Linked DNA regions of Homo sapiens. The protein of the gene in region 4 purifies or fractionates together with the protein of the main gene of each other region. This does not show direct contact. Each region holds a gene or a part of one and is shown on either strand. Other genes may lie near its edges. The genes, in order: SNX21, TIGAR, C1QL1 and MSRB3.

Region 1 (5,970 bases), on a different chromosome or scaffold from region 4:
TGTGACCTGTGCCCAGGAGGGCGTGATCCGAGTGAAGCCCCAGGTCTCAGAGAGCAAGCTGTAGCCAGAGGTACCAGCTTCGCCTGGGGCTTCAAGAACCTCCCATCTATCCCCATTCCTGAGACAGGAGTTACAGTCCCTTTTGGCCCTCACATCCAATAAAGAGACTGATACCACTGGAGTGGCTGGCTTTTAATTCCCCTGGGCCAGACCTGCAGCCTTGCCTTCATCCCTTAACTCCAGGACTCCAGGGGCAGAGTCCCTGGCCTTCAGCCAAGAGGCCTTGCCAGCTTGGGGGCCCACCAACAAGGGAACATTGCCCCAACCTGTGCCACAGCCCCCCGGCTGTTTATAGGCTGGAGAGGCTGTGTCAGACTTCCCTGTACTACACAAGGGCAACCCCAGCCAAAGCTCACCCTGAGCCTAGCTCAACAGAAGTTTCCTTGATCTGCTTCACATTCTCTTTTGGAACTTCTAGGGGCTCCCAGCACCCTCTGCAGCCTCCCAGCTATTCTGTTCTCATCAGGTCCTTCCCCTGCCTTCTGGGGCAACCCCTCTCCTCACAGTGGCCTTAAATCTAGGCAAGGGTTAGTCCAGCACCTCCTTGATGAGCAATTCTTTGAGACTGGGGGGTGGTGTGGGGGTAAGGCCTGCCTCCTGCAGGGCTTGGAGCCGAGCCTCTGATTGACGTTTGTCCAGGCCCAGGCGCCAGGAGAGCCGGACATGGGCCTCCAGAAAGGGTGCCAGCAAAGGGTGGAGGCTCTTGTCCCCAAGCAGCTGCAGGGCCTTCTCACAGCATGCCCGGGCCTCTCCAGGGTCTTCCAGCTCCTGGTGGCACACGGCCAGCCCAGCCAGGGTCAGCAGGGGGCGGTCTGGGCCAGAGGGGGTGCCCAGCTGGGCTTGCAGCTGCCAGGCATTGGCCCAGAGTGCCAGAGCCTCACGATAGAGGCCAGTACAGGTGAGGCTCTGTGCCCGCCGCAGCTCCGGCAGCACGAAGAAGTCCTGCAGGTCCGGGGCATGGCGCAGCTCAGGCACTGCCTGCAGGTGACCCAAAAACTGCTCAAAGGCCCGGCTACGGCGGGCAATGGTCTCTGCAGTAAAATTCCGGCGCAGCCGCTTACGGGGGAAGGAGATGGCAGCCATTGGGCCCCGGAATTGCCGCTGCAGGTTTCGGTGCAGCCGCTCAAAGTCCGAGTAACGGCGAGAGATCTGGGCTGGCTGGCAATCTGGCGGTCCTGGGCCGATCACGGCGAGGGTGTAGAGCTGCAGGGAGGGTGGGTGTCAGGGCAAATGCAAGTTGTCCACGGGCCCGTTCCCTCCCCATCCTTCCCCATCCCCCACACTCCCAGCTGTACCTCCCCACCTCTTCCTTTCACCCCTGGGACAGCACCCAGGAGGGCGGGAGCTGCTGCGCAGTGGCGGGGAAGCCCAGTCCCATCTTACCTGAGGTTTGTCTGAAATGACCCAGGCCCAAGGCAGCAAGAAGAGAGAAAGACAGAGATGAGCTTCAGTGCCCGGGGCTGCTGCCCCTTTTTTTGTACTCCCTTCCCATAGAGCATTAGTTCTTCTGACAGCCCCCTCTGGAAAACCAGACATAAGCTGAAACCCCAGCCAATCTCTTGGGGCTCCTTTAGGACCAGCTTGGAGCTTGTTCCACTTTGGACACCTGGCCTCCACATCCCTGGTCAGGCTTTTCCAAACTAGACCCAGAGGACAGGTCTGTAGATAGCCACAACTGCCATAACTGTGAAAAGTATACTGGCCTAGGACTCAAGTTCTAACCCCAGGTCAGCTACTCCTTCTCTGTGTGACCCAGGCAAGGGAGTCCCCCTCTGGGTCCACTTCTGTTTCTAGTGAAGGAAGTGCTCGGTCAAGTCAGTGTTTGTCCAAAAATGAGACATGTACAAGTATTGGTACCTGAGGTTTTTAGGTGGTGTGCACTAGAGTAAATATCACTGTATCAGGAGGTTGGTCCCCTTTTAATTATTATTTTTTGAGACAGGGTCTCACTGTTGGCCAGGTTGGAGTACACTGGTACAATCATAGCTTACTGCAGCTTCAACCTCCTGGGCTGAAGCATTCCTCCTGCCTCAGCCTCCCAAGTAGCTAGGACTATAGGCATGCACCACCACACTCAGCTATTTAAAAAAATTTTTTTTTTTTTTTTTGTATGGAGATGAGGGGGGGTCTCACTATGTTGCTAGGGCTGGCCTTGAACTCCTGGCCTTGAACAATCTTCCTAGCTAGGCTTCCCAAAGTGCTAAGATTACAGGCATGAGCACCACACCCAGCCTAATTGTTTTTTAATCTTTCTGACTACAAATTGAGAAGCTCTCAGTTTGGTTTTGTTGGGGTTTTTTTATTTTTTTATTTTTTTTGAGACGGAGTCTCGCTCTGTTGCCCAGGCTGGAGTGCTGGAGTACAGTGGCACGATCTCGGCTCACTGCAAGCTCCGCCTCCTGGGTTCACTCCATTCTCCTGCCTCAGCCTCCCGAGTAGCTGGGACTACAGGCGCCTGCCACTACGCCCGGCTAATTTTTTGTATTTTTTAGTAGAGACGGGGTTTCACTGTGTTAGCCAGGATGGTCTCGATCTCCTGACCTTGTGATCCGCCCGCCTTTGCCTCCCAGAGTGCTGGGATTATAGGTGTGAGCCACCGCGCCTGGCCAGCTCTCAGTTTGGTTTTAAAAAAAGGACTTCTTGGGCAGGTTGCAGTGGCTCACACACACACCTGTAATCTCAGCACTTTGGGAGGCTGAGGCAGGTGGATCACCTGAGGTTGAGAGTTCGAGACCAGGCTGACCAACATGGAGAAACCCTGTCTCTACTAAAAATGCAAAATTAGCCAGGCGTGGTGGCACATGCCTGTAATCCCAGCTACTTGGGAGGCTGAGGCAGGAGAATTGCTTGAACCTGGGAGGTGGAGGTTGTGGTGAGCCGAGATTGCTCATGGCACTCGAGCCTGGGCACCAAGAGTGAAACTCTCTCTCAAAAAAAAAAAAAAAAAGTACTTCTCTAACACTTCTCATCTCCATTTTTAGAAAAGAGTCAGAAAGTGGATCTCAGGTCAGGGCCTCCTTCAGGCAACAACATCTAGGCAAGATTTAATGACGTTTCATTTTCACTACTTACTTATTTACTTTATTTATTTATTTAGTCTCGCCCTGTCGCCCAGGCTGGCATGCAGTGGCACAATCTCCGCTCACTGCAACCTCTGCCTCCTGGGTTCAAGCAATTCTCCTGCCTCAATCTCCCGAGTAGCTGGGATTACAGGCGCCTACCACCACATCCGGCTAATTTTTGTATTTTTAGTAGTGTCGGGGTTTCACCGTGTTGGCCAGGCTGGTCTTGAACTCCTGACCTCAGGTGATCTGCCCACCTCAGCCTCCCAAAGTGCGGGGATTACAGGTGTGAGCCACCGTGCCTCACCTTTTATTTTTATGGCTAGCTTCTCTCGGTGGCAAGTGAGACTTTCCACGTACGGTAGTGCTATGAAGTTGTCTTTTAAAATTACTTAAAGGATGGGCACAGTGGCTCATACCTGTAATCCCAGTACTTTGGGAGGCTGAGGCAGGAGAACAGCTTAAGGCCAGGAGTTCGAGACCAGCCTGGGCAACATGGCAAGACCCTGTCTCTAAAAAAAAGAAAAAGAAAAAGAAAAAGAATTAGTTGGGCACTTGTGGTCCCAGCTACTCAGGAGGCTGAGGCAGAGAATCATGTGAGCCCACGAGTTCAAGGCTGCAGTGAGCTATGATCACGCCACTGCACTCCAGCCTAGGCGACAGAGCAAGACTCCGTCTCGATAAACTTATTTAAGAAAAAAAATAGGTTCGGCTGGGCGTAGTGGCTCACACCTGTAATCCCAACACTTTGGGAGGCTGAGGCGGCAGATCACTTGAGGTCAGGAGTTCAAGACCAGCCTGGCCAACAGTGAAACCCCATCTCTACTGAAAATGCAAAAGTTAGCCAGGCATGGTGGTGGGCACCTGTAATCCTAGCTACTCAGGAGGCTGAGGCGGGAGGATTGCTTGAACCTAGGAGGTGGAGGTTGCAGTGAGCTGAGATTGCACCACTGCACTCCAGCCTGGGCAACAGAGCAAGACTCTGTCTCAAAAAAGAAAAAAAAAAAGATAAAGAAAAAAAAATAGGTTCATTTAAAGAAAAATGTTAAGAAGAAAAGGACACAAGTGGCATTTTTAGATAGGACAAGAATCAGGGAGGTATTGGAATGACTGAGGTTTGGAAAACACTGAACAAGATGATCACGAAGTTCCCCGCCTCCCAGGTCTGAGAACCTGAATATGGATTAACCTATAATGCCAAGCCAACAGGTTTAAAAGGAGAGTTAACCAGTGTTAGATGTTAAAGGCACCCTAACACCAAATCCAGATCTTTCTCTCACATTTGTTCTGTGGAACTGACAATACTCTAGCCACTCCTGGTCAGTTAGGTTTGCTTACTCTGTCCTCTTGAAGATTCACAGTGTATATCACTATTAGGGATTAAATACTTTAACAATAAAGAAACTTATTGTATTCTCATTTAACTCTGCATTCTCAAAACATATTGCCTGCAAAACCTTTATTTAGAAACAGCTATTAACATTCCAGGGAACTAGTTTTCTGCAGGACACACTTTAGGACACCAGTTTTCTTCAGGACACACTGGTCTATATAATAAGCCTTTATGTTCATCTAGTTTACATTTTGTATCCATTATCTCATTGACCTTGTAACATGCAGCCAGATGGGTGATAATGACAGTAGTTCCATTACCCAAGCATTTACCCTGTGCCTCCTGTTGTACCAAGCACTCTTTACATCTGTGATTTCATTTAATCATCACAACAGCACTGCAAGGAAGGTCCTTATCTCTGACAGCTGAGGAAGCAGGCTCAAAGAGGGGGAAAAGGGCTCAAAGACTTGCCGTAAGTCACACAGCTGGAAAACAGCCCAGCTGGGATTTAAACTCAGGTTGATCTGATTCCAAAGCCTGTGCTCTTCACCCCCACAAGTTGAGTGGGGAATTAGGGTCCCCATTGTACACAGGAGGTGCCTTGCTTCTCCAGACACAGGCCGGGGCATACTTGGCCATCCTGCTCTATCTTGTCATCCCTTCCCATCCAGGTACCCACAGTCACCCCCATTCCTCTCAGCCTCTGAACTATTCCTTGGTGTCCCCTTCCAGTGTATGAACCCAGAGTTCTGAGACCTTTGCCACTTCAGACTTCATCATTGGCCACACGTGGTGGTGCACAGCTGTAGTCCTAGCTACTTGGGAGGCTGAGGTGGGAGGATAGCTTGAGCCCAGTTGGAGGTTGTAGTGAGTTATGACTGCACCACTGCACTCCAGCCTGAGTGACAGAACGAGACCCTGTCTCAAAATTTTTTTTTTTTTTTTTTTTTTTTTTTGAGACGGAGTCTCGCTCTGTTGCCCAGGCCGGACTGCAGTGGCTCGATCTCGGCTCACTGCAAACTCTGCCTCCTGGGTTCACGCCATTCTCCTGCCTCAGCCTCCCAAGTAACTGGGACTACAGGCGCCTGCCACCATGCCCGGCTATTTTTTTGTATTTTTAGTAGAGACGGGGTTTCACCGTGTTATCCAGGATGGTCTCGTGACCTCGTGATCCGCCCGCCTCGGCTTCCCAAAGTGCTGGGATTACAGGCGTGAGCCACCACGCCCGGCCTCAAAAATTTTTTTAAAAGACTCAATAATCGGAGTCGGTCCCTGCTGAAATTGGAGTAGTCACCCCATGGGTGTGGCCCTTGCTTACTAACAGCAACAGAAAAGGGTGGAGAGGCCCAGATGTGGGACTGGGCTCCAGGCCCCCTCCTGCTGAGTCAGAGGTGGAGAAGGGTGGTGAAGAGGAGGGGAGTGAGAGATGGAGAGCTGCCACTGACAGGAGTGGCCAGCTCAGCTGGCTTTCAGGCCTGGCCTGAAAAGGGACTGGAGCAGGAGTCGCTGTGGGCA
Region 2 (5,981 bases), about 61 Mb from region 4:
AGGAAAAAGAGAAATGAGCAATACCAAAGGCCAGGTGGTAAGAGGCTTCAGTCCAGAGGATAACCTGGGTGGGGCATATTTCGTCTGAAAACAAAGGTTCCTTTGAGAATCAGACCAGTTATTGTCCATAAAAGGGAGTCAGGCACACGGAATATGAAAATCAGTTTTTGTAAACCCCGGAAGTCCCTAACCAAAAAAATAAAACTAAATGCTTTTATAATCACAGCACAGAAATAGCATGTCTAGCCAAAAGTTCAAGATATTCTTAAAAAGCCAGACTAGCTGGATCACAGGGCAAATAAAAGATCTGAGTCCAAATTAACAGAAAAAGGGAGAAAGAATCTCTTCAGAATAAAGTAACGACCACATGTGAAAATAGTTCTTTTTTTAAACCTTTATTACTACTAAAATTAAAATAACCATCTTAGCAGAAAAAAATACCATTAACACCAGTCAGTAAACTTCATGTTTCCAAATATAAAATAATTTCAAATCCAGACATTTATATTTTAAGACACCCAGACCCAATATAATTAATCAGCTGACAGAGCCACTTTGAAGCCATACATAAAGAATAACTTGGAGACCTGTACTTCACACCCAGTTCACTTGAGAGATTTATTCCTCCTGGTTACTAACAGCCCTGATCATATTTCTGTGGTTATGATGCTTTGATTCTGTAATCCCAATTCACAATGGAGTGCTGCCCCCAGTCTACCCCACCCCACCAAATCTGCTTAACTCACACATCTTATTAACACAAGGGTGAGAGCTAAAATAACAATCGGATTATACCAACCTTGGATTATTTTCTCCTTGTTAAATCTTGTTTCTCCACTAAAATAGAAAGAGAAGGACAACCTTATTAGCCAAATTATACTGTTTTTGAGAGGAGGAAAAAAATGAGCAATCAAGTGTGGTGATACTCTAAAAATATCATGTGAAACTTGTAACACACTTCATAATCCAACCTGTAAAAACAATTTATTCTAAACTAATATTTGCAATTGTCTTCTTTAATGAAGAGCTAAGAATTTCAAACTACTCCAAACTAAAACGTGTAGATCAGGAACCAATCTTAAGTGAATTGCAGGTGGAAAATCCTACTAAAAAATATAATGCAAATAACATTTCAGCCAAATAATTTTGTTAAAAGAAATATATTGATCAAAACTACTCTTACTGGCAGCAGGAACAAAAACGTGAGAGTCAGTCTATTCATTGCTGGACTGAATGAGCAAGTGAAAGAGAATCTGAATGGAATGGGAGAGACGTGCACAAACCTTCAGAACCCCCTGCCTTCTCTTAGTTCCTAGGTCTTCAGCAGTTATTTTTTGTAGTACTGACAGCTATCTCGCAGACCAACTAACTGCACACTGAACTGAGGTTTGAGTACTACACTTTTAAAAACTAAAATACCAAAACAAATCAAAGCAATCTGAACCAACCGGAAGGGTAAAAGAACTGGAAACTTTGTCAGAAAATAACTGGGGTTACTGAGGCTGGAGGGGGAAAAGGGCGGGAAGTGCATGGGCAAGACTGGACAGACAGCAGGATAGGTTAACAATAATGCAACTTTCAAATACATGAAAAGTAGAATCAAAGAGAATTCAGCTGAAATTTCTTTGAGCACTAATTAAATGTTTGCTGACCCAACCTACCACTAGAATTGCTGGGCCATAAGGTATGCAAATACCAGCTTTATTAGGTAATGCCAGTGTCATAGCAGGTTACACCACCCTGTAGTGTGGTGTACCACCCTCAACAAGATTCAGTGATGGAAGGTTTCTTCAATTTGTACCAATCTGGTACCTGAACAATTCATCTCACTTTAATTTTAATTTGCATTTCCTTGATTTCGATGGAAAATGATCGCTCCATTGTTTTTAAGTGAAGCACTAGTTTATAATAATTAAAATGTCACATAGGACTGATTTACTCAGATCTAGAAAAAAAAATCTACCAGACCTGGAAGTCAGAATCACAAACTCAGGCCTCATCCTGGAATCTTGCCGCTTGTTTACAAAAACAGCTGTATGCCAACCTCTGCCAAGATACAGATTGCTGGATTTGGCCAATATGAATGTTCTTTAAGACCCAACACAAGACTGGTTCTTTTAGGTAGTCTCCCTCCCCAGTACCATTCCCCATCTACCTACTCTATTTAATACCCACACTCTATACTCCCATGGTCCCCTGGCACTACCAACATAAGTTTTCATCTGTGTGCTAATTGACTTTTTAGCTCTGTGTCTATCCTGGCTCCAGTTCCTTAAAGGCACAAGCAGGGATTGCATACCCTCAACATGCCCAGGGCCTGGAGAAAATGCTGGGAAATGACAGAACTTCAGTGAATGTGCTTTTACCTAGGGAGGGTCATCTGGAAATACCTATCAAAATGACAAATCTGTTTACCCTTTTATCCAATAACCCAATTACTGGGAATAACTGAATTCACTCATATTTAAAAGATTATTTGTGGCCAGACGTGGTGGCTCATGCCCGTAATTCCAGCACATTGGGAGTCCGAGGTGGGTAGATCACGATGTCAGGAGTTCAAGCCCAGCATGGCCAAGATGATGAAACCCCATCTCTACTAAAAATACAAAATTTAGCCATGCGTGGTGGCGGGCGTCTGTAATCCCAGCTACTCGGGAGACTGAGGCACAAGAATTGTTTAAACCCGGGAGGCAGAGGTTGCAGTGAGCTGCAATCACACCACTGCACTCCAGTATGGGTGAGAGAGCAAGACCCTGTCTCACAAAAAAAAAAAAAAAAAAAAAAAAAAGATCATTAGCTACAGTATTATTTCTAATAGCAACAGATTATAAACAACCCAAATGTCCATAACTCATTCCTTAACTATGGCCAGAATAACCATTATTTATATTAACAAATAAACAGTGACATATCTACCTAATGGAATCCTATGTAAATGTGTCCTTTAAAGAGAGAGATTATATGTAAAGATATGGAATGCTCACCAAGATATATGATTAAGTAGAAAAAGCAGGGTATAGAGTAATATAAAAAGAAAGCTACCCTTTTAGAAAGGAGGGAAATAAACATCTGGATCTGCACAAAGAAACAATGGAAGGATAAACATGAAACTAATAAATGTGGCCACCTATTGGTTGGGGGAAGAATAGGAAGACTACGGAGAATTGTTTTGATTTCTAAATATGTAGATGTATTAGCTTAAAAAATAAACGTATGATAAAGAAATAAAATTACACAGAACTGGCCAGGCACGGTGGCTCACGCCTGTAATCCCAGCACTTTGGGAGGCCGAGGTGGGCAGATCACGAGGTCAGGAGTTCGGGACCAGCCTGGCCAACAAGGTGAAACTCCGTCTCTGATAAAAATACAAAAATCAGCCAGGCATGGTGGTGAGTGCCTGTAGTCCCAGCTACTCGGGAGGCTGAGGCAGAAGAATCGCTTGAACCTGGGAGGTGGAGGTTGCAGTGAGCCAAGATCATGCCACTGCACTTCAGCCTGGGCAACAGAGCAAGACTCTGTCTCCAAAAAAAAAAAAAAATACATGGAACTATTTATACCTTGGTAAAAAACCAACAGCACTGATTTGCCATTATCATTGTTGTTAATATTAATAAAAGATTACCTAGGCCACATGCAGTGGCTCATGCCTGTAATCCCAGCACTTTGGGAGGCCAAGGAGGGCAGATCACCTGAGGTCAGGAGTCCGAGACCATCCTGGCCAACATGGTAGAATCCTGTGTCTACTAAAAATACAAAAATTAGCCAGGCGTGGTGGCAGGCACCTGTAATCCCAGCTATTCGGGAGGCTGAGGCAGGAGAATGACTTGAACCCAGGAGGTGGAGGTTGCAGTGAGCCAAGATCATGCCATTGCACTCCAGCCTGGGCGACAAAAGCAAGACCTCATCTCAAAAAAAAAGATTTCCTACACTCCAAAATTCATTCAGAATCTTATAAAATGGGCATGAAAGAGGATATTAGCCTCTACCATTCAGATGGATAAAGCAGAAGCATTCAGGGCAAACATGGGGAACCTGTCATTTTTAATCTAGAAAATAGTTACCATGTATTGGATTCACTTCCTGTCTCAGCCTCAAAATCTTGCTGAGACCAAGAATAAAATATCTGTTATTTCAATATAAGTAACATCCTCGGCTGGGCGCGGTGGCTCATGCCTGTAATCCCAGCACTTTGGGAGGCCGAAGCAGGCGGATCATGAGGTCAGGAGTTTGAGACCAGCCTGGCCAATATGGTGAAACCCCGTCTCTACCAAAAATACAAAAATTAGCTGGGCGTGGTGGTGTGTGCCTGTAGTCCCAGCGACTCGGGAGGCTGAGGCAGAAGAATCGCTTGAACCCAGGAGGCGGAGGCTGCAGTGAGCCGAGATTGCGCCCTCAAAAACAAAACAAAACAAGTAACATCCTCGCTAGACAGTGGCTTGTAGCCCTTAATTTAAACCTGGCCTAAAACTGCCTCCATGCCTAGGGAGCTGTCACCTAACTTAATATGCACACAAACTACAACATAATTTGAGAGTATATTCCTGTAATAAAAACCAAGTCTCAGCCAACCATGCATGGCAGCTGAGCTTTCAGCCAATTATGGGCTGCAAACTGCTCAGACATGTCCTAATAAGGCAAAGCAGAGCTGTATCCAATCAGGCTATCTCTATATGTCACATCCTTTCTTTCTTTTTTTTTTTTTTTTTCTGAGATGGGGTCTCACTCTGCAGCCCAGGCTGGAGTGCAGTGGTGTGATCTCGGCTCACTGCAATCTCCAACTCCAGGATTCAAGCGATTCTCCTGCTTCAGCCTCTCAAATAGCTGGGATTACAGGCAAGCGCCACCACGCTCAGCTAATTTTTGTATGTTTAGTAGAGACATGGTTTCACCATGTTGGCCAGGCTGGTCTCTAACTCCTGACCTAAGGTGATCCTCCTGCCTCGGCCTCCCAAAGTGCTGGGATTATAGGTGCGAGCTACTGCGCCTGGCCATGTCACTTCCTTTCTCTGTCTATAAATACTGCCTGCCTATGTCACTGGGTGAGCACTCTGAAGCTTTACTGGTTCAGGTGCTGCCTGATTTATGATTCATTTCTTTGCTCAAATAAACTAAGTCTAATTTGTCTAAAGTTTTTCTTTTTATAGGTTGCTAACACAATTTCCAGCCAAAGCCAAAGAAGCACCCTCATTTTGAAATGAGGGGTGAGAAGAAATTTAATAATTTGCCAACCAAGAAATCATGCAAGAGCCACCAAAAAAACTCAGAATTTACAAATCACAGAAATTTGGCAGAGATGATTACTTTTTGTATACTTGCTGAAGAGTAACTCAGCATTTTTATTTAATCAAAGTAGATAATGAAAGATTCAAATTAAAATAAAGGTTTACACTGTCAAAATGTCATTTTATAAAAAATGGAATCCCAGAAATTTGATAGTTTCATAAAAGTACTGCCCCACCATCTAACGATTTTCAGTGAAAGCAGCATAACCACTGTGATATAATGAAGGACTCATTTAGCCATATATCAACAGAGGCTGCTGTAGACTCAATAGTATTATTAACAATCACAGCATTCAGTTTAGTTCTATTTGGCATTTTTGCGTTCAAATCACTTTATAAATATTAAAGAGTAGGAATCCAAAAATAGATTTTTTTCCAAAAGCTTTCATAAATATTTAGTTGTACAGCTTTTATCAGCTTTATTAAGAGGTTTATATAAATCCTTGAAGTAACTGTTTAATTAGTACGTTTGGGGAATGGGAAAGGAAACTTGATGGCTAAAACAGTTTTACTATTAATCTATTTCCCTTAACCAAGTCTGACTTGTGATAGCAGCAGAGAAGGTGAACGGAGCTGAAAGGTCAGAGGGATATATTTTGAAGGAGTCAGGAATAACACCACTCATTTTCAAAATCTGCAGTGTGGTCCATTTCCAAAACAGAAACCTGACTCTGCAGGAATCCGAGTGCTTCTGCCAAG
Region 3 (5,537 bases), on a different chromosome or scaffold from region 4:
GGGGAGGCCCTCAGGTGTGGTGGCTGGATAATTCCAGGCCCAAATGGCCATTAGAGAACCCGGGGCTGTGGGCAGCACTGGGGGGCCAGAGGAGTGCCTTCTAATCTAATCACTCTTCCCACCAAGACTCTCATTCTAGCCAGACCTGCCAGGGGTTTTATTGGGTTTGTGGGGACCCGCAGATTTCAATCTCCAGACCCCACAGGGAAGGAACAAGCATTAAGCTAATTTTATTAAATGGCCACAGCTGGCAGTGGGGGAAGTAGGGAAGAGAAGGGAGGATAAAGAAAGTCATTCAAGTCTGCCAGCCATGACAAGGGTCTATACATGAGGCCTGGCCAGGAGGGAGGCCACCCCTCCTTCCTGTCTCTCCAGCTGAGCTAGACTGGGGAGGGGAAGCCAGATGGGACCTTTCCTCAATGTAGAGCCTTGGGATTCTCCAAGAGGCTCACTCCATGGCTGCCGCCCAGGGCAGATGCTTGTAAATACATCAGGCGTCTGCAGGGTTGGGGTGGAAGTGGAAGGGCTGGGCTCAGGCTGCCCCGGTGCCATCCTCAGATCTGCTTTGGAGATCCCAACTCTGAAATATGGTGTACCAGGTAAGAGCATTATCTTTGGTTCAAATACTGGCATTTGCCTGTTTTTAGCTCTGTGATCTTGGCAAGTTGCTTAACCTCTCTGAGCCTCAGTTTCCTCACCTAAAATGGATAAAATAACAGCATAATTTTAAAGGGCATGAGATAATTTCCTGTAGATCTACTGCCCACCCCTGCACACATATCCATGAGATAATATTTATAAAGTTCTTACGTAGTACCTGACATATAATGGGTGCTCTCTCAATATTAGCTATTGTTATCTAGAAATGCCCTGTGTGACATGGCCTCCAGTTATAGGAAGTGAGGATGGCAGTGGTGGAGTAAGGGGACTTGGTATGTCTTGGATTTTCTTTCTTTCTTTTTTCCTTTTTTTGAGATGGAGTCTTGCTCTGTTGCCTAGGCTGGAGTGCAATGGCGTGATCTCAGCTCACTGCAGCCTCCACCTCCAGGATTCCAGTTATTCTCCTGCCTCAGCCTCCCAAGTAGCTGGGATTACAGGTGCCTGCCACCACGCCTAACTAATTTTTGTATTTTTAGTAGAGACAGGGTTTCACCATGTTGGCTAGGCTGGTCTCAAACTCCTGACCTTGGGTGATCCTCCCACCTCGGCCTCCCAAAGTGCTGGGATTACAAGTGTGAGCCACCGTGCGTGGCCATGTCTTGGATTTTCAAGTGCAATCACAGAACTTAGAAACTATGTAAGCAAGATATTTAACCTCCCTGCAAGAATAAAATCTAGGTCCAACCTTCCAGGGCTGTTTGGAAAACTTGAGATGACATACTTGGAAGCATTTTGCAAGTTATAGATAAATAATAAAAGCTATGTTTACTGAGCACATAACAATAAACCTCACGAATCCTCAATCAAGTGAGGTAGGTCTCCTACGTTTATTGATGAGGAAACCGAGGCACAGAGGTCAAGTGCGTAGACCTAGGTTAACCAGCCTTTAGTCCAAAGGATGTTCCTTTCTATGGCTGTCACTAATCCTAAATTGCGTTGAAAGAAGTGACTTGCCCAGGATCATACACGGTGGCCCAGAGCCGGACCTAGGTCTCCCTGTTTAAAGATCACCTGTGCCTGTGGAATGCTGATGCCACTTTCAGCGAGGCTCCCGCCTGTAATCCCAGCACTTTGGGAGGCTGAGGCAGGCGGATCATGAGGTCAGGAGATTGAGACCAGCCTGGCCAACATGGTGAAACCCCATCTCTACTAAAAATACAAAAATTAGCTGGGCGTGGTGGTGTGCGCCTGTATTCCCAGCTACTCGGGAGGCTGAGGCAGGAGAATCGCTTGAACCCGGGAGGCGGAGGTTGCAGGGAGCCGAGATCTTGCCATTGCACTCCAGCCTGGCAACAGAGCGAGACTCCGTCTAAAAAAAAAAAAAAAAAAAAAAGGAATGTGTCCACCATGGAAGATGATGAAGTAACTGGGCTGCTTCCCATCCCAGCTGCCCAGGCCCACTTGGGTTGTGGTGGGCTTTAGGCCCTTTGGCAACTTCTTCTTGGAGTAGCTCTGGCTCTGGCACCTGGTTTCCCCTAGAAACTTCCACCAGACCCCTTCCTAATCTGGAGGAGGGCACGGTCCACCGTCGCCTCCCGCAGCCCTCCCCAGGGCACAGACTGAAACCCCTGCGGGGTGAAAATGTTTTTATTATAACTTTGGTCAGACGGGGCACAGCCGGGCGGGGGCTCTGAGGGTGCTGGGAAGCTATCCAGCCCCCAACTCCCCCCTCCCCCGGGCGCGCCACCCCGGAGGGAGCGGAGGGCAGCTCATCTCAGAGCGCAGGAAGCAAACCCGCCGCCGCGACCTCTCCCCAGGCTGGGGTGGGCTGGCAGGCGGAGGTGGGCAGTAAACAGTCCTATTGTACAAATATATAGCGCGGGCTGGGCGGGGGCGGTCAACCCCGGTTCCCTGGCACGGGGACAGGGCGCGCTGGGCCCGGCTCTGCAGCGAGCCGGTGGGAGGGCCTAGCTGTGGCCCAGGCGGTGTTGAGCACGGGCCGGGGGCGTCATAGCCGGGGAGGGCCGGGCAGCGAGCGGGTGGGCGAGGGGCGAGTCATCGTCTGCCCCGCCCGGAGGGGACCCCGGCGGGTGAGGGACGTGGGTGGAGGGAGACGTGGGGAGCTCAGTCGGAGTAGATGATGAAGCCAGAGAACGTGCTGTATTTGTTGCTGTTGCCGCCGTGTGCTTTGCCTCCATCCAGCTTGATGAAGACCTCGTCGCCGGCGTCCAGGTGCAGGATCACGCTGTTGCTGGCGTAGTCGTAGTTCTGGTCCGCGTCCTGGGCAATAGCACTGGCCCGCACCTGCGGGTGGGGGACACGGGAGGGAGGGCGAGAGGAGAGAGAGGATGAGAAGGGAGGGAGGTGAGGCAGTCCCGTGGGGGAGGATCAGCAGACCCAGAAACCTGGCCTCCAGCCTCGCCTCATCCCTGCCACGCTCCCCCTCCCCCGCCCCCTTCCAATCATACAGGACTTGTTTCAGGAAAGGGGCAGAGAGGATCCCTGGATTTCTAGGGCAGGTCTGATCTGGGCCTGAATTGGGAGTCAAGGCAGAGTCTTCCTCCTTAACTCTTATAGGGCTTTCCCTCCAGCTGGCTGAGAACCTCAATACCTCCAGGAAGCCTGGAAGCCTGTCCTTGCAAAGAGGAATTCTCTGGACCTCCAGGGAATGGAGGGCCTTCCCTACTCTCATCATTCCTTCCTCTCTGCTTTCATAATGATGCCATCGTTTCAGCCACACCCGCTGGATCTTATGTCAGTGGATGGACACAAGGGCACACCTTGGCCCCACAGGTCAGGCAGCTGGACCAATGCCAGGCTGCCAGTCAGCAACCACCCTGGAACCAGGGCCAGGTCTTTGGTCTGAAGTGCATTCCAGAGTCTCTCCTGCTGCAGCAGTGAGACAGAAGGCCTGGTAATGCTTTCCCCTCCCAGAGTTTAGAAGGGGCCTGGGTGCCAGCCTCCATGGAGCTGTAGCTATGTACCTGTCACTACCCACCCAAAGAGGATTGTAGCTCCTCCTGTCTCACCTCAGGGTGGTAGAAAGGAACTGGGTGGGAAGAAGGGAATCCAGGCCTTACTTCCCTCTGGGATTCTCAGTCTGATGTGACATCCTTGCTGGTCCCTGCCTTGATGGGGGATGGGGAGGGACAGGCAGGATAATGGGTCAAGGGAGCACCAGCATTTGGGCTTGGAGCCTGCCGTCACTTTTGGGGGCTCTGACTATAATCATAAGAGATTGTGTGGTGGCTGCATACGGTGGCTCATGCCTGTGATCCCAGCACTTTGGGAGGCCCAGGCAGGTGGATCATTTGAGGTCAGGAGTTCGAGAACAGCCTGGCCAATATGGTGAGACCCCCATCTCTACTAAAAATACAAAAATTAGCTAGGCATAGTGGCACGCCTGTAATCCCAGCTCCTGGGGAGGCTGAGGCAGGAGAATCACTTGAACCTGGGAAATGGAGGCTGCAGTGAGCCGAGATCATGCCACTGCGCTCCAGCCTGGGCGACATAGTGAGACTCAGTCTCAAAAAAAAAAAAAGGCCAGGCGCGGTGGCTCACGCCTGTAATCCCAGCACTTTGGGAGGCCGAGGCGGGTGGATCATGAGGTCAGGAGATCGAGACCATCCTGGCTAACAAGGTGAAACCCCGTCTCTACTAAAAATACAAAAAATTAGCCGGGCGCGGTGGCGGGCGCCTGTAGTCCCAGCTACTGGGGAGGCTGAGGCAGGAGAATGGCGTGAACCCGGGAAGCGGAGCTTGCAGTGAGCCGAGATTGCGCCACTGCAGTCCGCAGTCCGGCCTGGGCGACAGAGCGAGACTCCGTCTCAAAAAAAAAAAAAAAAAAAGAGAGAGAGAGAGAGAGAGAGAGATTGTGTGGTGGTGAACGAATGATCTACAGACATTCAGCTAACAGGTATGGAAACATAAGTCCTGAGTTTGAGGATCGGGGCCTCTCCAGGGTATCCTGGGTAGAGACATGGAAGAGAAGCGCCCTCTCCAGGACTGTGGCTTGTGGTGTGGGGAGGCTGCACTGAGTGGAGTTCTCTCAGCCAGGTTTCTCCACGGCCCCTCTCTATCCTGTCCCTTCACTGAAGGCAGCTTACCATCCCAACTCCCAGGGCTGAAGTCTGGGTAGAACCAAGCCAAATTAGGGGAGGGGCCCATCCTCTCTCCTGGGCTGGAGGCAGCACTGCAGGTCAGCTGTGCCAGAGCTGCTGACTCAGCCGCGATGCTGCAATGAAGAGGACCCGACATATTTGCATGAGGGCCTCCCTTTAAAGCCCTTCTCCAGCCCCTTCTTTTCCCTCAACCTCTTCTTCCCAACCTGAGAAGAAACTCTTTGTGTGCTTAGCTGGGAAAACTGGTCTAGTTAAAGGTGGGAGGGAATAAATGAAGGGGGAGATGCTGTCTGCCAAGGAGCTCAGTTTCTCTGTCTAGAAAATGGATGAGAAGACTTTGCCTCACCACTGCCACCTCTGTAAAAGTCTTTTGATGATAAAGAAAAAAAAACATTAGATCTTGATGGGGCTTTGAGTTATTAGGGAAGAGCTGAAAGCAAACAGCCAACTTCTGTATTGTTCCCTGAGCCCTAATCCTGGTAATATTTATTATTACACATGCATTTCATTATCTTTGCTAATAAATTACTACTAATAACAATTATTTTTATTGCCCAGATTAATTTAGCCTTAACTCATTAAAACAGTGTGCTCCTTAATAGCCAAATCCATTGGAACAGAGTCATCTGTCATCAGGAATCTCCTGGTGATGTGACTGCATCAGAACTGTTATGCTTATGTTTATTATTTATTCATCACCATGATTGTTGCCGTAATTATCCTAATTATCCATGGAGGCAGAGAGAATTTATGCCCTTCCATCCTTAGATGGTGGGGGATCCAAGAATGGAACCCAGGGGTCCCAATTCTCTGCCT
Region 4 (5,981 bases):
TATGTTGCTCAGGCTGGTCTCGACCTCCTGGCCTCAAGTGATCCTCCTTCCTTGCCTCCCAAAGTGGTGGGATTACAGGCATGAACTACTGTGCCTTGCCTGAGTGTTTTTTTTTTTTTAATAGATTCTACCATGTAGCACAGGCTTATTTTCAATAATGCCTTAAGTCTTACATATGTACTGAAAGATGTTTTTGTCTTTAAATAAAATAAGTGACCCAAGAAACCATAAGGATTTGTTATGTAATTTATAGTAACAGAAGACATGTCACGGCTATAACAGAGACCTGTAGGTGTATACTCACATGCAAATCAACTAAATTTCACTTTAAAATAGCACTGTAGTCCCAACAACAATGCTCATATACCTAAAAATATAATTTTTAAAAAGTATTTATTTATTGTATCTGACTTCTAATCCATGAGACTATTTAAAAGTCCAGTCTTAGTATAAAGTACATTGTCTGGCATAACATATATAAATTTTATTGTAAGAGGATTCTGAGAAGGTGTTTCCCTGTCATTCCAAAATTTCCGCTATGGCTCAAATTTTCAAATAGAAGTTTTCCCCCATACCCCACATTCTAAAGTAAGAGGACAATGAGATACTCAAAGTTGAGACCAGAACTTCCTGAGAGTATCCATAAAGCAAGAAATCAAGTGTCCATAGACTCTATAAGTCATAATTTCCACATGTATACTTTCCAAATATATGAGAATTTTTTTTACATTTACAAGAACTTATTTCAAAGTTTTATAGTAGCTTTTGCTGTTACGTATTTTCTCAGTCAACAGATACTAAAAACATAGTTACTACTACATGAAAGGGTCTCCATTATTTTTAAAGAGTTGGAAATTACTCAATACTATATACTGTATGTAAATGTGTCACTTTAGACAAATGTTATGAATAATATACTATTTTTATAAACCTAGAATCAGGATATACCATTCGCCTGGGAACTAGACCCTAAGAAAACACTTCCTGGTTTTTTGGGGATTTTTGTTTGTTTTCTGAGATAGGGTCTCACTCTATTGCCCAGTCTGGAGTGCAGTGGCACGATCTTGGCTCACTGCAACCTCTGCTTCCTGGGCTCAAGCAATCCTCTCACCTCAGCCTCCTGAGTAGCCAGGACTACAAGCATGCAACACAATGCCCAGCTAATTTTTGTAGTTTTTGTAGAGATGGGTCTCACTACGCCGCCCAGGCTGGACTCAAGTGATCCACCCGCCTCAGCCTCCCAAAGTGCTGGGATTACGGGTATGAGCCACCAAACCCAGCCGAAAACACCTCCTATACCAGCATTCTTTCTCTGTTTCACCTATATTCATCTCCACATTTTATAAACCTCTTTAATCGTGTAAATAAAGCCCTCTCATAAAATACATTCCCTCAACTTTCCTTTAGGAAACCAAGTATCAATAAATAGCCCTGAGGTTTCCACATCAGCACAGCTGGGTAACCCAATCACAGCAATGCCCAGTAACAATGCTGCTCCAGGCTACCACGGCCAAGTGTCAGAGATCAGGGTATAGTGACCGGAGTGGCCAACTCAAGTAAGTGTACAGGAACCTTGCAGTCAACACTTGAAGAGATAAGGCAAGCAAGGAATTCTGTAAAAATGAGGGAAGTATGTGATTTATCATTATTTTTCATTTTACATTAGGAAGTTATCAATAATTATTTTATGGATAAGAACCTGACCATGGCCACAAAAAGTAACCATAAAGGACCCCAAAAAAGTATAAAGAGTACTCCATCTGGTGGAAATCATATCTTCTTCACATTCTGTCCAGTCTTGGGGAAGAAGAGTGAGGAACGAGGAGGAGTGTGAGACACAATGTGTGTTCAAATTGGTGATGATGAAGACATTTAGGAGTCAGTCCTTTATCTGAAGAAAGATAAGAAGCCACTGAGGGAGGGTTAAGCAGGAAAGAGGGGAAATGATTTTGTAGTTTAGAAAGGTCATTCTGGATGCAGTATCCTTTGTCCAACACTTCCCATGTATTATCTCTCAAGTTAGTAAATGTGATGTCCCCTCAACAAGGAAAGCTCGTGAACAGAATGCCATATACCGACTCGGCATCTTTTAAAGTCAGATCAAATTCTCTCTTCTCTATGATGCTTTTCCTGTACCCTTCCTTTTACTCCAGCTAACAAATGCTCTCTTTTTCTCTTTATTTTTAACTCTCCTTACTCATACATGTTTTATTTCCAGCCTTGATCTCTCCCTCCAAGTTCCAGTTTCACACTTCGGATTCTACTACACATCTCCACAGGAATATCCTACCAGCACCTCAAAAGCAAGAGATCTAGAACAAAACTTATTTTTACCTCCACCCACAAACCTGCTGAGATCACATTCTCTCCATCACCCAGGCTTAACATCTCATGTCACCTTTTATTCATCCCTTTCTTTCCCAATATCCAATTGCTTATTTCTGTCCAATGTACTTTAGCAACACTTCTACTGCGGTGCCGCTATTCTCGTTAGGTCTTCATTCCTTAAGAGAAACTCTCAAAACACTTCTTTATTGGTCCTATGACTTATTTCCCAATTTAATTAATTATCTAAACTATTGGATTATATAACCTATAATTCACCTCTGATTATGACATTTCAAGGATCAAAAATGTCAGTCTCATAACTTACTAACCCAATCCAAGTTCCCTAACAGCATTAAAAGCCTTCCACTTAATTTTCCATATTTGTACTTTATTGTCCCACTATTCCACTTTATACATGCTCATTTTCTTCTACACCTGTCCTCTCTATCTGATCTGGTAAATTCTGGGTGCTCAACAAAAGCTGATTTCCTTCTGTATGAGTTGCTGTCCTCTCCTTCCCCCTGCCATCTCAGTTACAGGAAAGCATCCTATCATTTGTATATTCCCTCTTCATACAGGAAATTAGTGTTCATGGAAAAGCATGTAAAATCTAGGAAACAGACAAGTATTAAGAAAGAAAAGCAGAGTGATTGAACTCCAATTTCAAAAGAAGACAGCAGCAAGCAGGATACCATAAAAGCATCAGAGTATCTGAAAAAGTCAGAATTGTTATACCTGGAACAATGGATGCTCAGAGCCTATCAGAATTCTTCTAGCTGAGTGCAGTGGCTCATGCCTGTAATCCTAGCACTTTGGGAAGCCAAGGCTGGCAGATCACTTGAGGTCAGGAGTTTAAGACCAGCCTGGCCAACATGGTGAAACCCCATCTCTACAAAAAAATACTACAATTAGCTGGGCATGGTGGCAGGTGCCTGTAGGCCCAGCTACTCAGAAGGCTGGAGTGGGAGAATCACCTGATTCTAGGGAGTTCGAGGCTGCAGTGAGCCATGAGTGTGCCACTGCACTCCAGTCTGGGTGACAGAGTGAGATCCTATCTCAAAAAAAAAAAAAAATTCTAGGTGATTCACTGACATATGGAATTTATAGTTTAGTGAAGTTGAATATATATGGACTTAACTACAACACAAGACAATATAGTAAAACTTGTACTCCAACCATGGTCCAAAACACCTTAGAAGCACAAGGAAATTACAAATTCTGTGGTATGAAGAAAATGTCACAAACTACCATCTGACAGAGGCCTTAAAGACTTCAACCTGTTGTGATAGAGAAGAGGTCCAGGCAGTAGGAACAGCCTAAAGGAAAGGTAGAGACAGAAAATGTTAGATATGTGTGAGAAATAGGAAAACAACTGATAAATTCTCAGTCCCTAAGCTATTACTGTTTCAAATATCTCTACCACTTATAGTTTTAATGAACTTATCCTAAAGAGCCACTGGAGGTCAGCATTTTATTCAGTGAATTCCTGAAAATATGCAGATGATTATTTGCAGAGTGAATTAGTTGTTATCAGAGAAAATGTTCACAATTCATTTTAAGGACTATAACCTCATAACATAAAATGGAAAAATGCAAAATCAAACCATCTACATGGCTGTACTACGTACATCAGATACTCTAGAATTAGAAGAGACTTTAGGGAAAATCTAGGTCAACCATGTGACCTAAACTGTGTCTATCAGGTTCTACCTCCCAGGAATTTAGGATCAAGGCTCAATAATATAGTCCCTCCTTATGAAGGGACACATAAATACTCAGGAGCTGCTGAGCAGCCACATCTAACCATGAAGAGAAAAAAAAAAAAAAAAACACCAGCAAAGAAAAAACAGTGAAGCAAACTAGAGACAGGGAATGTTCTAGATTTTTCCAGTCCCTTATCTCAGGCCCTAAATGAGGTCTGCCTGCATTTGACTTCCAATGGTTTTCCAACAAATTCCTTTCTTCCTTTTTGCTAAAACTAGTTCATTTCTGTTACTGCAATAGAAGCTTAAATGAGGCAATAACCAAAATCTTTCATAAAGTCAATTGTTCGATGCGTTTGTTTGATCTTTTCTATACTTTCCTTTTTTGTACTTCCCTTAAAGCCATAAACATGACTTCAGCATACTATACAGACAAATATATGAACATGGATGAGGGACTGTGCTGAGCAATTTTTTTTTTTTTTTGAGACAGAGTTTTGCTCTTGTCGCCCAGGCTGGAGTGCAGTGGCATGATCTTGGCTCACTGCAACATCCGCTTCCCTGGTTCAAGTTATTCTCCTGCCTCAGCCTCCTGAGTAGTTGGGATTACAGGTGCCCACCACCATGCCCGGCTAATTTTTGTATTTTTCATAGAGACAGGGTTTCACCGTGTTGGCCAGGCTGGTCTCAAACTCCTGACCTCAGGTGATCTGCCTGCCTCGGCCTCCTAAAGTGCTGGGATTACAGGCGTGAGCCACCACACCCAGCCTGTGCTGAGCATTTTAAAAGGAAAACCCATCATGGGCAGGAAAGAGAAAATACAGAATATTCAAAGTAAATCCTTGAGATACAGCAAGAAGAAATGCTAACTAACAACTGGCAAATTAAATAGCTGATTACCCTTCCATCCAAATCCAGTTTAATTCTGCTAAATCAGATAGGTAGATCCAATTCAATCTTCTCTGAGGTAAGATCAAAAGGTGATAACCCATTATAGGCTATTTCATCTGGAATGCTCACAGATAACTAGCCTTCCCAACCACAGAAATGTTTGGATGCTCTCTGGCGGTATCCCTAACCCAGACCTAAATAACAAAACTGAATATCAAACTGTCTTAAGGCCTGGGCTTAACTATCCCCAAAAACCAGTTAGGCATTTACCCTATGACATAATCAGCACTTTCTGCTATTAGATGAGGAAGAAAAAGTGATAGAAGCTTAACACGGAATCTGTCCAGGTATGTATGTATCTTTGTGCATGTTCCAGGTATTAACACAATCCTGAGACAGATCCGGACTCTCCAACACTGGACCACACCCATCACATCTGGCTAAGGTAGGCCAGTTTGACATGTATAGCAAGTCACAGGCTGACAATCAGAAGTTTGAACCACATGTAGTAGGTGGCTCTGAAGAGTTACATAAACAAAAACAACATTATAGGATCTTGGAGTTAGAAGAGACATGGAAACTGTCCAACTTAATAATTTTACCGAGAAGCTAAACATGGGAATCAAATTCATCAACCAAATCCATAACTATGATAAATTAATTATACAGGTGCAGATAAATTAGAGGGATTGTGACCAGATTATGACAGAACCAAAAATGCAGTGGTGTGATCACGGCTTACCACAGCCTCGATCTCCCTGGCCCAAGCAATCCTCCCACTTTGGCTTCCCAAGTAGCTGAGACCACAGGAGTGAGCCACTATGCCCAGCTAATTTTTTTTTAATTTTTGTAGAGACAGGGTATCCCTATGTTGACCAGGCCGGTCTCGAACTCCTGGGTTCAAGCAATCCTCCCACACTGGCCTCCCAAAGTGTTGCATTACAGGCATGAGCCACCACACGTGGCCTTAAAATCTATTTTTAATTATTAAATGGCATATGTATTAGAAAAACTGATGAACCTTACTGTTGGGATAGTCTTTGGATATTCTTTTGAGTT

Evidence for each region.
Region 1: the proteins of MSRB3 (region 4) and SNX21 purify together in Homo sapiens (affinity purification with mass spectrometry; one large-scale study listed by BioGRID and IntAct). This does not show direct contact.
Region 2: the proteins of MSRB3 (region 4) and TIGAR fractionate together in Homo sapiens (co-fractionation; one large-scale study listed by BioGRID). This does not show direct contact.
Region 3: the proteins of MSRB3 (region 4) and C1QL1 purify together in Homo sapiens (affinity purification with mass spectrometry; 2 studies listed by BioGRID and IntAct, with this or other methods). This does not show direct contact.

The regions. Positions count from the first base shown.
Region 1 is NC_000020.11:45,835,932-45,841,901, reverse strand, and holds part of SNX21 (sorting nexin-21), read right to left. Parts: exon of another isoform or gene 4,567-5,970; intron 3,635-4,566; coding exon of another isoform or gene 3,511-3,634; exon of another isoform or gene 3,370-3,510; intron 2,423-3,369; exon of another isoform or gene 1,597-2,422; coding exon of another isoform or gene 1,444-1,596; intron 1,264-1,443; coding exon 589-1,263; 3' UTR 65-588; coding exon of another isoform or gene 1-64. Other genes in the region: ACOT8 (acyl-coenzyme A thioesterase 8), read left to right, coding at 1-64. UniProt on the Homo sapiens protein: Binds to membranes enriched in phosphatidylinositol 3-phosphate (PtdIns(P3)) and phosphatidylinositol 4,5-bisphosphate. May be involved in several stages of intracellular trafficking.
Region 2 is NC_000012.12:4,326,136-4,332,116, reverse strand, and holds part of TIGAR (fructose-2,6-bisphosphatase TIGAR), read right to left. Parts: intron 838-5,981; coding exon 800-837; intron 1-799.
Region 3 is NC_000017.11:44,957,464-44,963,000, forward strand, and holds the end of C1QL1 (C1q-related factor precursor), read right to left. Parts: intron 2,905-5,537; coding exon 2,725-2,904; 3' UTR 2,230-2,724; downstream 1-2,229. UniProt on the Homo sapiens protein: May regulate the number of excitatory synapses that are formed on hippocampus neurons. Has no effect on inhibitory synapses.
Region 4 is NC_000012.12:65,280,854-65,286,834, reverse strand, and holds part of MSRB3 (methionine-R-sulfoxide reductase B3 isoform 2 precursor), read right to left. Parts: intron 1-5,981. UniProt on the Homo sapiens protein: Catalyzes the reduction of free and protein-bound methionine sulfoxide to methionine. Isoform 2 is essential for hearing.